Homo sapiens: one gene and its partner. The protein of the gene in region 2 interacts with the protein of the main gene of each other region in a pairwise test. Each region holds a gene or a part of one and is shown on either strand. Other genes may lie near its edges.

Region 1 (7,024 bases), on a different chromosome or scaffold from region 2:
AAAGCACAGATTGTTTAGGAAGTTTCTGGGAAATTTGGTATGAATCACTTGATCCATAGATAGAAAAGAGGCAGAGACAGAGTGGGAAAGGTAGATAGAGGTCAGATTCATGCCACTCTAAAAACAGTGGGGATTGACTGAAGGATTTTAAGCAGGAGCGAACCCACGTTAGGCAGGGTCGAACATGTAGTCTTAGCGAATTGGTTAAGAAGCTGTTACAGTAATGTGAGAGAGTAATAAATATGAACTATGGCTGTGAAGGCTGGGATGGAGGAGAACGGGGAAAAGGTGAAAGAATATTAAGAAGGCAGAATGCATAGGACTTAACGACTGACTGGCTATGTGGAATCAGCAAGAAGATGCAATAGAAATCCGTGAATATTTTAGAAGAAGAGTTTAGTTTAAGCAAGCATCACTTTTTGAAGACTACCACTGGGATTTCTCAGATTCTACACTTTCATGAGCTAAATAATTTTTGGACAGATTCATGTAACATGTTTCAGGGAGGTTTTACCATCTTAAGAAAACCTATACTTTTGTAGAAGACTTCTACATCATATTTTTAAGGTATTAACTGAAAGAATAAATTCACTTCTGTTTTACTGTTGAGAAGATGTAAGAAAGGCCTGTTCTGTATAAAAATACAGACAATTCCTAATTTACCAATCACTAGACCCACAATCAGTTCACGAATATAGGGAGAATTGTGGCTAATGTTCTAACCTGAGCTGCTAGGGCTTTCATCCTAACTATTCCACGAATTCTACAGTCTTGTCCCTGTTAAAATTCAAAAGGTACTAAGTGGATTTGGGGGTTGAGCTGTTTGTAATACATCAAATACAATATGGGTTAAATAATTTGCTTATTTGTTTTATGGAGGGCATAAGAAAAATAATCACCAATTACTCTGAAGCAATGCAACTAAGAATGTTAACAAACTTTAGAAACACAACTAATTTGCAATCTGGTGTTGCCCATATAGTTAATGCTTAGTTATTATAGTAAAATCAGAGAATTTCAAACTTTGGAGAACTAATATACCTCTCTTCACCTTCAGCTCCTATAAAGTATCAAAAGGAGGGGAAGGAGCAAATATATCTATAGTAGCTCTACAGCTAAATAAATTCCAAAGCAGTACATGTCTTCAATTATGTACATTATCGGTTAATAAGCATTTTAATAGCTTTTTTACTCTTTTGTACTAAATTCTTAAATTACATGCAAAGATCAATGATAAAACAAATACTTCATTTTCAAACTGTATTTCTACCATGTTTAGATGGCATTTTCTCTTCTCTATGTGCATTTAATTGCAACATAATGACTTGAATAAACATATAAATGAACTTTTTTAGAGCCATTTAGGGTGGAAACATTAAATAATTACAAACCTTATAGGTGTTTAGACTCCATTTTCTAACAAGTTCTAACTTTTCCATTGCAGGATTTTTAATTTCATCTGCTAGAATAACTGGTCCACTTTTTGTCTGTGTTCTCTGGCCACCTGCAAGATAACAAAAGATAAAAACACAATCCAGATGAAGACAAGCAGGGAAAGAAAACAAAACCCTGATATTGTTCAAATTGAAATTCTTATGCATCTAAAAAAAGAAAAAAAGGTTCCCACAAAGTAAAGAACTAGAACTTCCTGGAATCGCTGAGGATAGTTTCCTAATTACTTAAACAACACTTCTGTCCATTAAACACAAATGCCATGTGACTTATCTGTCTTCTTTAAACAAACAAACAAACAAAAAAACTCTTGCTGCAATCAGCCTTATTTTCTATATAAGCTGCCGCTTACTTCAAGAAAAATAAAATTTCCACAACTAATTTTATACACTAATGACACTAAAAAAGAAGTATCTTGGTCGATAAAAATCTAAAAGGCCACGTATTCCCCACAGTGATCTTTCACTGTAATGTGCAGACTACAACAACAATAGAATGTTGCTATAATTTTGGAGAATTTGAAAAAAATAATTCAAATTTCATACAGTAGTTCAATTCAAATAGTCATTAAAGATATGCTATCACTAGTATGAAAGGCTGGGTTGAAACAAGATCTATATTGTACCTCTTTTTTCTCAAGAGACCACAAAAAAAAGGTAAGAAAACCAAAAAGAGCCATAATGAATAAAGAAGCAGTGTAAATTCCTGACAATGTACTCTTCCAACAATTAAGAATTTTTGATATGAAAGCAACTCTACAACTATATAGTTCTTAATAGTAAAATACTTTTCATAGTCAAAATATTTTTCATTTCAGTTTTTGGATGGAAACTTTCTAATAATTTAAAAAGAATAATGAAATAAGGAAAAGAAAAAATTAGGATCAGCCCCCAGTAAAAATCCCCAAAAATTTCTTCTCTCACTTATTCCTATAATCAGACCAATCTTTCCCATAGCTTTACCAGTCCGAGAACAAGAATGGTATATAAAATAGAACACATTTAAGAATTTACAAAATTCTCACAAAACAAAATATAAATGTTAACATTTCATATAAGAAGAAACGTGGAGTTCATTTTTTCTCCCATTTTTATAGTCCAGTAACGGTAAAGTGCAGAGCAAATTGAATGTAAAGATACTGATTTTCCCAAGTATTTTTCATTGGGTATAACTGGTAAATTAACAGTATTGTGTTGCAATCTGCAAACTATTTGTAAGTTAAAGCTAAAAGTAAGAAGACAAGACCTTTTTCATTTAATCCATTCTTAAAAACAACCAACCTAATTGTTGAAGGTTGTTTTTCCTTTAACTGAAAATAGAAGGCAGAGCTGCAAAGATGAGAGTTTAGGATCAAACAGTAAACCTACAATTTCCAGAGCAAAGAAAGAATGATTTAAAGCAAATCAAATTTTATAATGTTTTAATTTTAAAATGGATTAAGTTTCAGGTGTGAGATACAGCCGAATTATTCTGAAAAGCCACAAAGATAGGATACAGTTAGAAAAATTATTTCCTTTATTGTTAATAAGGCAGCCACCAAAAAAGTCAGAATCACACACACCTAAGAATATAAAGCAAGTGATTATGAAACTGAGTAAATTAGTGTAGCTTCAGCAGTAGCAATAAGTGCTTTATCCAATCAGTGCAGTGAATACCTGCAGGAACAATTAAATCACTTCCTTGCTGAGCCAGTCGACTAGCTGCAACCCTGCTAGGAGACATAACAGATGGCAGTGGCGGTGCTGGGGAACCTGAAAAGGTAGACATTTTAACTGTGAAAATCCTTTTCCTCCTCCACATACTGTACATTTTGAATATAGGGTTACTGATATTTCCTTTAAAATATTCAAACACTAGGATTAAAAGTTGGAATTAATATATTTGTTTTCTTTCAGGGAAGGACTAATAATAAATGTATGCTACCAGGCTCAGTTTTTATATAAACTTTTCATCAAACTATCAAAACTAAACAGAATATGTAACTATATAATGAAATCTGGTAGATGACATCTAACCAGGATTTTAACTGGACTCTACTATTTCCAAAATCAGTTAACAGAATGTGAATACAGTCCCATAGCTGGATGATTTAAAGCTTCAGTAAATATTTCATAACTTGCTACTCTCATATATAAAGGAAAAGCTCTTCAAGTAAAAATTCAAAGGCATGTAAGGGATATTAAAACATGCTCTCATATCTCTTATAAGAAATGTGAATGAACTACAGCCTTCACAGGAATTGTAGCCAAAAATTTCAAATCACAAATCAAATGTCACATAGTGTGTCTCATTGCTATTCATAATGTGGACATAGAGGACCTTCTTCAATTCACCTGGACGCTTGTTAGAAATGCAAAATCTCAGACCCTGCCCAGACCTACTGAACCCAAACCTACATTTTCATAAGATTTCCCCAGGTGATTTGTATGTACTTTGAAATTTGAGAAGTGCTGATGTAGAATATTTTTTGACATTATAAGAATCACTTTTGGAGCTTTTAAAACATACCTGCGATACTCAAAAAGATCTACTGATTATCAGTGAAACAGGCATCTATTCTTTTGCAAAAGCCACTCAAGATGATTCTCAAACACAACCAAGTTTGAGAACCAGAGGAAACAACACAATTTTTGAATGAAACACAACTAAGTTTTAAATTCTAACACTGAGTTTAAAATTCTGGCTCTATCTACCACATGATATCAGGAACACCCTGGCAAATTACTAAACATCTCTGAGCCTTAATTAGCTACAAAGTAAGAAACATTAACTACTGGCTGAGAGCGGCGGCTCATGCTTATAATCCCAGCACTTTGGGAGGCAGAGGCAGATGGATTGCTTGAGCTCAGGAGTTCAAGACCAGCCTGGGCAACATGGCAAAACACCATCTTGCTGGGCATGGTGGCACAAGCCTGTAGTCCCAGCTACTCAGAGGTTGAGGTAGACGGACTGCTTGAGCCCAGGAGGAGGAGGCCGCAGTCAGCCAAGATCGCACCACTGCACTCCAACCTGAGTGACAAAGCCAGACTCTGTCTCAATTAAAAAAAAAAAGAAAGAAAGAAAGAAACACTGACTACCCAACATTGTTGCTAATGTCTAGCATTAAACAAAAAAAGGGAGTAATAGGTTTCTAAAACTGAAAAAATATTAAAGTCCTTCCATGTTTAGCTGAGAATATTTTAATGTCTATAATGTACTTTTATTTCAATTACACTCTTCCCCAGTTCTCTGGAAAAAATACATGCATTAAGTACATAATTAAATTTCCTAATAAGAAAGACATGTCTACTTTCTTTACTATTAGTAATAACTGGTCATATTCCAGATGTACTAAATTCTGACATAGAAACTGTCACGAGTTCTAACAGTATAAAATATACCTTAACTTGAACTGGATCTCACATTAAAATTCAAACATGCAATAGACCTAAACTAAATAGATTGTTGTTAACTTTCAAAATGAGAGATATTTTTCTCTTTAAATCTGTTAAATTATAAAATTTAAAACCAGAAGGGATGATGGAAATCAACTAAACTGTCACATTAAACGGTAAGATTAATGAAGCCCAGAGAAGTTAAAATAGTTTCTTATTAGAGACTCAGATGTTCTGAACACCATAATATCTCCATTATTAAATTCAATATAGAAATCACTAATCTACAAGTTACTTGCTGAGTTGGAAGGCATTTTAATAGGTTATCCAGTTCAATCACCATTTTAAACAAAGACTGTATCTCTACCGTCCAAGGCATAAGGGATTCTAAAATAAAGTGTAAAATAAAAGAAGACCACTGTACTTCCATGTCTTGACCCCAGGAATAGGAGCTCTATTGTTCTAGTTATTACAGTTTCTTAATCTTGCATAAGAAATAAACCATAGCACTACATGGGATGTGTATAATATATATAACAAATGATATGTAAATTTTCAAAGTAAAATAGCAAATGATGTAGTGTGGCTGTAACTGGGACTTCAGCTTTTTTGATTTACCTTCAAAGGTAATTATCACTTTTCTGTATCTTTAATACTTTAACCCTTTAAACAACTGTTACCAAAATCATTCACCAATACCAACTAAAAAATAAATAATAATACAGGATCTCTCAATAATACAGGATCTTACTAACTGGCTAAATTTGGGGAATTAAATCTATTTCATCTCAACAACAAAAATCTAGAAAGATGAATACATATGTGCAAAGATTTATACCCCCATTAAAACAAAACCCTGGTACCAAGTACACTTCACTCTTGTGAGCTTTGATTTATTCATGATTTCCACTATTACTGATTCTGCAACATCTTTGGTGCTAGGCCGATTTCAATATTTGTTGTTTTTAAGCTGAATTTAAGTATAACTTTTTAATTTGCTCTAGATAGATGAAAAAGTAGATGGTTATACTCTTCTTGTTAACTGTTTAAGCAATAGTCATAATTTATCATTTAGTCATCTTTCCAGAGAGCTAACACAGCCCTAATTCCTTTAACATTTTTTCATAAGACCTATTTTCCAGATTGTAACCATTGTATGTTATTCTTTCTCATGTTCATTCCAATTTATCTACATATATCTTAAAACAATCACAACTTTCCAACAAATGCTTAACTAATTTAAGTATAGCAGCAGAATGATTATTTTCCTAATACACTGATCAACAATACAGTTTGGATTTTAAAATGTTTTACAAACTCAGTTCAGAGAGACATATATTACTGCCATTATCACGAAATATATTTTCTTATTCCAATTGGAAGGATTAGGATGTATCTATAAGCAAGTGAAACTGATGGGCATTTTAATGCTCATGTATATCAGTTCATGATGGCCAACTGATTTCAATTATTGTATAATACCATTATACAATAACTTTAAGGGGAAAAATGCCAGCTAAATAATTTCATTAAAAATATTTAAAAGATTGCTTTTACAAGTAATTGTTTCGAGACCCTCTCCCCTCTCCCCTCTCCCGTCTCACCTCTCTCCCTCTCCCCACGGTCTCCCTCTCCCTCTCTTTCCACGGTCTCCCTCTGATGCCGAGCAGAAGCTGGACTATACTGCTGCCATCTCGGCTCACTGCAACCTCCCTGCCTGATTCTCCTGCCTCAGCCTGCTGAGTGCCTGCGATTGCAGGCACGCACCGCCATGCCTGACTGGTTTTTGTGTTTTTTTGGTGGAGACGGGGTTTCGCTGTGTTGGCCGGGCTGGTCACCAGCTCCTAACCGCGAGTGATCCGCCAGCCTCAGCCTCCCGAGGTGCCGGGATTGCAGACGGAGTCTCGTTCGCTCAGTGCTCAATAGTGCCCAGGCTGGAGTGCAGTGGCGTGATCTCGGCTCGCTACAACCTCCACCTCCCAGCTGCCTGCCTTGGCCTCCCAAAGTGCCGAGATTGCAGCCTCTGCCCGGCCGCCACCCCGTCTGGGAAGTGAGGAGCGTCTCTGCCTGGCTGCCCATCGTCTGGGATGTGAGGAGCCCCTCTGCCTGGCTGCCCAGTCTGGAAAGTGAGGAGCGTCTCTGCCCGGCCGCCATCCCATCTAGGAAGTGAGGAGCGCCTCTTCCCGGCCGCCATCCAT
Region 2 (7,816 bases):
TACCATCTCCATCTTCTTTCTATTCTCCCCTGACTTCAATCAGGCCTCTGACCCCATCCAGCCACCAAGACTGCTCTCGTGGAAGTGACAACTGATAACCTCCACGGGTAATCTGCTCTTAACTTCTGAGACCCATCAACAGTACTGGGTCCCATCCCCTTCCTAAAGCACTCTCTTCCCTCACTTTCTGGGGCATCCTTCTCTCTTGGTTCTCCTCCTCCTTCTCTCGCCACGCCTCTCAGCTGTCTTTGCCGGCTTCTGCTCATCCTCTAAACTTCTACACACCTAGAGAAAACCAGAGGTCAAACCTTGGACCTCATCTTGACGATCTCATCTCTCTCCTATTTCCTCCCACAAACTCTACAGTGTTACGTCCAACTGCTTTCCTCACATCTCCACTTGGATGCTACCTGGATCTCAGACTTCACGTCCACACTGAAATGATTTTCCTCCCTGAACCTGCTCCTCCCACAGTCACTTAATGGCAACTCCACCTCTCCAGATGCTCAGGTCGAATGCCATGAGGCATCCTTGCCTCCTCCCACTCTCACACATCCAATCCGTCAACAGTGTGGCCTGCTGGCTGTACACTCAGACCATTTACAGAATCTGACCACTTTTTTGTTTTTTAAACAGGCTTTTTTGCTCTTTAAACCACTTCTATCACTGATTTGAGCCACAGTCATCTCTTGCCAGGACAACTGTACTTGTCTCCAGCCCAGTCTCTGGGCTTCTAACATTGCCTCTACAGTTTGTTCTCCACAGAGCTGCCAGAGTGATCCTTTAAAATCCAAGTCGGTCACACCACCACTCTGCTCTAAACCCAAAGGCTTCCTATCACACTCAGAGTAAAGCTAAAATCCTTTCTATGGCCTATGAGAACCCTCACAATTGAGAATCCCCCTTCCTGCTTCACCTTTTCTTCTACAATTGTCCCTCTTCTCTGCCCCGCTGCTAGAGCCCCTCTGGCCTCCTTACTGGCCCTGAACATGCTGACCACACACCACTTGGGACTCTGTATCTGCCTTGGAGGCTTTTATTCACAGGATGCTCAGACATCCCAGCAGCTCTTCTGAGCTGTGCTCACATGACTCCCTGGCAGGGAGGCCTTATCTAAGTAATATGGCAACCCCAACCTCCTCAACCTGCTCTGACTTTTTCTGTGGCTGTCTGACACATTATATACTTGTTTATTCACTGTTTCCTCCAATTAAAATTTAAGTTCCATGTGAAAGAGGTATTTGCACTGGTCACTGTTATTAACACCTGCATCTTGAACAATGTCAAACATATGCAGGAACTTGAATATTTGTTAATGAACGATCACCTCCTCTGAACTCACAGCACTTGTCTATACAGCCAGTCACTCTAATCTTTGATTGATTACTTCTCCACATATCTTTCTCCCCTCTAGACAGTGGGCTCAAGATAAGTGATATTACCTTTGCATCTCCAAAGTTTAGAGTAGCACTGTCCAATAGAACTTTCTGCAATGCAAATGTTCTGTATCTGCGCTGTTTAATACAGTAGCCTTTAACCACATGTGCCTACTGAACATGTGAAATGTGGTTGCTGTGACTAAGGAACTGAATGTTAAATTTTATTTAATTTTAATTAATTTAAATTTAATTGCTCCAGGCGCAGTGGCTCAAGCCTGTCATCCAAGCACTTTGGGAGGTCAAGGTGGGCGGATCACTTGAGGTCAGGAGTTCGAGACCAGCCTGACCAACATGGTGAAACCCCCATCTCTACTAAAAACACAAAATAATTAGCAGGGCATGGTGGCAGGTGCCTGTAATCCCAGCTACTCAGGAGGCTGAGGCAGGAGAATTGCTTGAACCCGGGAGGCAGAGGTTGCAGCGAGTCGAGATCACGCCACTGCACTCCAGGCCTGAGCGACAAAGCAAGACTCCATCTAAAAAAAAAAAAAAAAAAAATTCATTGGCCACATGTGGCTGTGGTAATATACAGAGTTACAGAGTGCAATGAGAACAGATACTTGTCTTACACTCTCTGAACCCAAAACTGTAGCCCAGAACTCTACCCACACCAAGTGCTGAGTAAGTATAATGACAAGGAAGTCAGGAGAGACAAATAGAAGATCCTTATGAAATACAATTCAATTTTAAACGTCCAACTTCTGCGACAGCACACAATAACGTGCAATATAATCGCATGCAATAACAAAAAAACTTACACCGCAGTTCCTGCTCCACTGCTACTTTTAACCTTCTTGCTGGAGGAAGTAACCCTTATCAAGTCTCGCTGGTAAGGCGCAGACACAAGGGCTTTTATTAAGAAAAAAAAAAAAATCTCTTACCAGGGCTCACTGCCTTAACAGAAAAATTTTAATTCAATATTATTTCACTTACCAATGTCCTGTTTATTTTTCCTCCAGTCTCCCTATTTCCAAAAGACCACCCCCCAGCAAACACACACATAACACCACCTTTACCTCCAAAGACAAACAGATGCAACAAGCTTTAGGGTCTCGGCTCACTGCAGCTTGCAGGATAAATGCCCTGCATAGCTACTTACGCTGCACAGCCCGAGGCCAGACCCCGCACCAGGCTCAGAAAACCAAATAGTACGTGGGAGCGATGGATTATTTGGGAAAGCGAGGGCAGACGTTAGCGGATTCCTAAGTCAGAAGGCCAGATGGGAGAGTCGGGGGGGGGCCTCAAAGTGGGTTTAAGTAGACCGCATGGAAAACTGGAAAGTTCTCAAATTCTACCCAGGAAGCAGGCGGAGCCCTCCTAAATCAACCAGCCGGGCAGAGGAGTCCCAGACCCCCGGCCTCGCACCCACCCCACCCGCTCGGCCGGTCCTCAGTGCGGCCGGGGCCAGCGGGCAGCCCCGGGACTGGACGAGGGCGCAAGTTCGCTACCTGCGCAGTCAGGCCCTGCTCCTCGTCGTCCTGGCCGCTCAGGACTCGCCGCAGCTTCTCCATGGCCCTGTTACAGGGCCGTAGCGGCCGCCACTCTGTTGCCTGCCCCTGACGCCCACCAGGAAACCCCGAACCCGAAACCCCACAGACCAGCCGGAAGTCCGGTCCCGCCCGCTTCCTGTGCGTCAGCGCGGCCGCCGTAGCAATGCGCGCATGCTCACCAGCCTTTCTCTCGGACCCGGTAGTGGTCCGTGAAGTCCGCGGAGTGGGCGCTGATGGTGGGGCTATCCCTTCCCACTGTCCGCGAGGTGCGCCGTGGTAACGCGCGGGGACACAGCGCGGGTGTGGACCCCCTGCCCACAGCTGGCGCACAGCCATTGAGTGTAGACCCGACTGGGGCACGACCACTGAACCCTGCACTTGGCGTCCTCCGGGCCCCGCGAGGGGCCTTGCTGGGCGGGTCCGCGGCACCCCGGGTTCCCAGAAGTCGAGGCCCCGAATGCGCCTCCCCTCGCCTGGAATCGGAGAGCGGAGGGCTCCTGCGGGCAGGTGGCCGTGCTCCGAAGAGCGCCCTGCCACCCATGAGGTGGCCCTGGGGGCGTCGCTAGCCTTCCCAGCTGGGTGTCCTCATCCGGAGACACAAACACCTGCCTCAGGATTAAAGCGAGGAGCTGTATTTCAGACCGTCTCAGGAGAAATAGCAAGAGGCTGCCTCACTCCTTTGCCCTTGTGAGAGCTATTTCTTTACTCAGTTCACTGGTCAGCTAGGAGTTTGAAAGAGTGAAATCTTATTTATAAAAGGAATAGCTAATGCAACCCATTTTTCCAGTTTTGTGTGAACAGTGAAACCATTGAACAAGCGTTTACTGTTCTCCGGCTCGTGCTGGATGAACAAACACTAAGAAATGGGGAAGTGGCATTTTTCTCTCTCTCATTTTCCACCATGCTAAGAAAGGAGATTAAAAATCAGGGCTGCCTGTCTAATATGGTCTCCAGAAGTCATTAAGTGATAGGTTTTGCTCTTCTGTTTGCTTCTAGGCTTGGTAAGATGGTAATGAGAATGCCTGTTCTTTTGATTACTTTGCCCACTCCATTTCCTCCCTAAAATCTTTCAGTTAAAAGGTGGATCCTCAAAAAGTTTCATTGTCCATCCTACTGCCTCAGTAGAGATTTTATCTAAACTCAATTAGATAAAAACAAATACCACAGGAACCCTAGGAAAGCAAGTCGCGCCTTCTTGTGATGAAACGGTCCAATGCTCAGCATCCTTTTCCTTTAGGCAGAAGATATTTCTATGTGGCCTGTTCATACTAATATGAGAAGTCTTATCCTTATGTCCTTAACTTTAAAAGGTCAGAAAATAGATTGTAAAATCTATAGAATAAAACTATGTTTCTGTTGAATAAGAGAGTATGTCCGTAAGTGTTACGGGAAAGGGGTCCGGATCCATACCCCAAAAGAGGGTTCTTGGATCTTGCGCAAAAAGAATTCAGGGCAAGTGAAAACAAGTTTATTTAAAAAGTAGAGGAACATCGGTAGTCTGAGGCAGAGAATTGCTTGAACCCGGGAGGCGGAGCTTGCAGTGAGCCGAGATCGCGCCCCTGCACTCCAGCCTGGGCGACAGAGCGAGACTCCGTCTCAAAAAAAAAAAAAAAAAGTAGAAGGACAAAAGAATAGCTACTCCATAGGCAGAGCAGGGCTGTCTATTACCAGGGCTGCTGGTTGCCCATTTTTATGGTTATTTCTTGATGATATGCTAAACAAGGGGTGGATTCATGCCTCCCCTTTTTAGACCATATAGGCTAACTTCGTGATATTGCCATGGCATTTGTAAACTGCCATGGCGCTAGTGGGAGTGTAGCAATGAGAACGACCAGAGGTCTCTCTTGTTACCTTGGTTTTGGTGGGATTTGGCCGGTTTCTTTACTGCAGTCTGTTTCATCAGCAAGGTCTTTATGATCTGTATCTTGTGCTGACCTTCTATCTTATCCTGTGTCTTAGAATGACTTAACTGTCTGGGAATGCAGCTCAGTGGGTCTCAACCTCATTTTACCCAGCCGCTATTCAAGATGGGCTTCTCTGGTTCACATATCTGACATAACTGCTTTCAAGATTTTCAAGTATAGGCCGAGCGCGGTGGCTCACTCCTGTAATCCCAGCACTTTGGGAGGCAAAGGCGGGTGGGTCACAAGGTCAGGAGTTTGAGACCAGCCTGGACAATATGGTGAAACCCCGTCTCTACCAAAAATACAAAAATTAGTTGGGCATGGTGGCGGGCGCCTGTAGTCCCAACTACTTGGGAAGCTGAGACAGGAGAATCGCTTGAACCCAGGAGGTGGAGGTTGCAGTGAGCTGAGGTCGCTCGTTTGCACTCCATCCTGGGCAACAGAGTGAGACTCTGTCTCAAAAAACAAACAAAAAAACCTTACTTCCTAGCTCTTCCTGCTTCCTGGCCACATAGTTTTTTCAAGAGCCAATGACTCCTGAACACAAGGACATGCACAAAATTGTTGGGGTGATCAGACCCAACACCAGGTTGTGGGAGTGACAAAGTCCAGCAGAGTCAAAAGATTGAGAAAAAAGTTTGAGAGAGAAATGTGGGACAACAGGGGCCATTGCTATTGCGGAGGCTGTGAAGGCCCCGAGCTCTGGGAGCCCACAGTGTTTATTGGTAATCCAACTAAGAAACAGGTGGTGAGAATGTGGAGGTCATGTTGCATTAAGCACATGATTTACAGCTGTGACAGTTTAGCATTTATATGGAACATGTTCTGCTACTTGAGATAATGGGAATAGGTGCCTAGGAGCCTAGGAAGGCTAGAAGCAAGGAGCCAGCAAGTCTAGACACATTCCAGAGGACATTATGCAAGCCCTGCCTCAGTTTCCCCCCAACACTCAGCTTTTTCCCAGCATGCCCCCCTTCTCTTTATTGTAAAAGAGAAGATATCATTATTACTAGCTATCATTATTACTAGCATGGCTCTGGTTTGAATGCTTCCCACATATCTCCCCTTTCCCTTTTACAAGAAGACCCTTAATCCTAGGGGTTGCAGAAGGATGAAGGTCCATCTTCTGTAACTTCTTCATGCTGAATAGGGGTGACGATATTCCTGTCTAACTGTTAGGGTCTCTCATATTCAGGGTAGAGAGGAGCTGAGTCAGAAAGCATTGGCCCGTTAAGCATCGTGACTCCGGTCGGTCCTCATTCCTTCTTCGCATTCAGATTCAACTGGCTCATGGCTCACACTGGGGGAACCCGGTCCAAGGTTGGGATCCATGGGTACCTCCAGTCTCCCATTCCATGGTCGTACACATCTTGAGGGTATCCACACGGTTTGTTCATCTCCTGCAAAAACACAAGCATACCCTCACCCCCACGTTAGTAAATCTACTGAAACAGAAGCAAAAACTTTTGTGGCTGTAGCCGGGAGGCCACTGATAATGAGAAACAGGCCTTTTCTGATTAACAGAAGGCATAGAGAAAGCAAATCGAGGCTTTTCAAACCTTCAATTCGCACTGTACTCTACATGTGGGTCCACTAGATGCCGTGGCTCGTGATAGATCTTCAGATGGTTGGTGGGCACCCACACAGACACCTGAGTGTCACCTGGAGAGACACAAGCAAATCCTCTTCCCCACAAAATTATCTTTAGGCAGGGATCAGAGGACGTAGATTCAGAGGTAAAGAGAATTTGGGGGGCCTAATGGCTTCCTCATGTTTGATAGGTGTTCCCTCGGAAGTTAGGAATTCCCTTTCTCTCCATATTGCTGCGTGGGCTTGGAGGACTAGGTAAGCATGCTTAGAGTCTGTATATTTAACCTTTTTCCTTCTAATTCTAGTGTATAATGGCCCCTGCTTTTGCTAGAATGTCTCTCCCTAACAAAGGAGTGGGGCTTTCGGGCGTAATTAGAAAGGCATGTGAAAAGAGTAAATTTCCCCAGTCACAACTTAGTGGCTGGGAGAAGTATCAAGTGACTGCCTGTCCTAGGACCCCTCAGATAGTGACAGATCTGGAGGACAATTGTCCAGGACAGGAGAGTAAGACTGAGAAGACCGCACCAGTGTCCAGGAAACAGTTAACCTCCTGGCCCTCAATGGTCAAGCATACCTGGGGCTCTGTGTGGGTGATGGCATGGGCTGGTGCTTGCCCTGGTACCCTCAGTCCTGCTGCTGGATCATCTGGTTAGTGGCTTCTGACTCAGAGGACCTTTGTCCCCCAGGGCAGTGGGACTTCAAATTCAAATTCTGAGGCGTTTGTTGTTAGGAGTAGAAAAGTACTTTCCGAAACACATACCTTCTCCTTATTGGAATATCCCCTTTATCTACTAAAATGTACAGAAAACTCTAGGGCAAAAACTTCCCAAATGTTTGTAAATCTCAACTCCTCAGATGTAGTGTCTGGGCTAGGTAAGGCAGGGGCATAGACTGGAAAAAGTATAAAGCTTCCATTTTTTGTTTGCAACCAATTCTTCTGCAGTGATTAACAAATGGCCTTGATGCAAATAAAGAAAATCTACCCCTTAACTGCCCTCTGCCTCCATGAACATGCCTAGATGGAAATGTGGGTAGTGAGAGGGGACTCTTGATGTCACAGAAGGGTGCTTGGGACAAGGGTTTGTTAATTCATTGCCATTTGCTCAGCTCCTAACCAGCTATGAAACTGCAAGAAAGTCACTTGCAAGAAAGTCCTTGGATCTTTGGTTCCTTATTTTATTTTTAAAAAAGAAGAAGAGGGAAAGATGAGATTATCTCTAGTGAACTTCTGGAATTACCACCCTTTGCCCATTGGTTGATGCAAAGAGAGAGAGAGAGAGAGTGTGTGTGTGTGTGTGTGTGTGTGTGTGAGAGAGAGAGAGGGAGAGAGAGAGAAAATGGAAAAGAAGTGGTGCCTGAACTGAAGGAGCTGATCCTATGGGGAGAAGCCCAT

The links.
Region 1: the proteins of SFT2D1 (region 2) and ARFIP1 interact in binary tests that used the Homo sapiens proteins (3 or more experiments, as listed by UniProt).

What each region holds. Positions count from the first base shown.
Region 1 is NC_000004.12:152,866,932-152,873,955, reverse strand, and holds part of ARFIP1 (arfaptin-1), read right to left. Parts: intron 3,204-7,024; coding exon 3,108-3,203; intron 1,505-3,107; coding exon 1,392-1,504; intron 1-1,391. UniProt on the Homo sapiens protein: Plays a role in controlling biogenesis of secretory granules at the trans-Golgi network. Mechanistically, binds ARF-GTP at the neck of a growing secretory granule precursor and forms a protective scaffold.
Region 2 is NC_000006.12:166,339,532-166,347,347, forward strand, and holds the start of SFT2D1 (vesicle transport protein SFT2A), read right to left. Parts: upstream 3,015-7,816; 5' UTR 2,951-3,014; coding exon 2,888-2,950; intron 1-2,887. UniProt on the Homo sapiens protein: May be involved in fusion of retrograde transport vesicles derived from an endocytic compartment with the Golgi complex.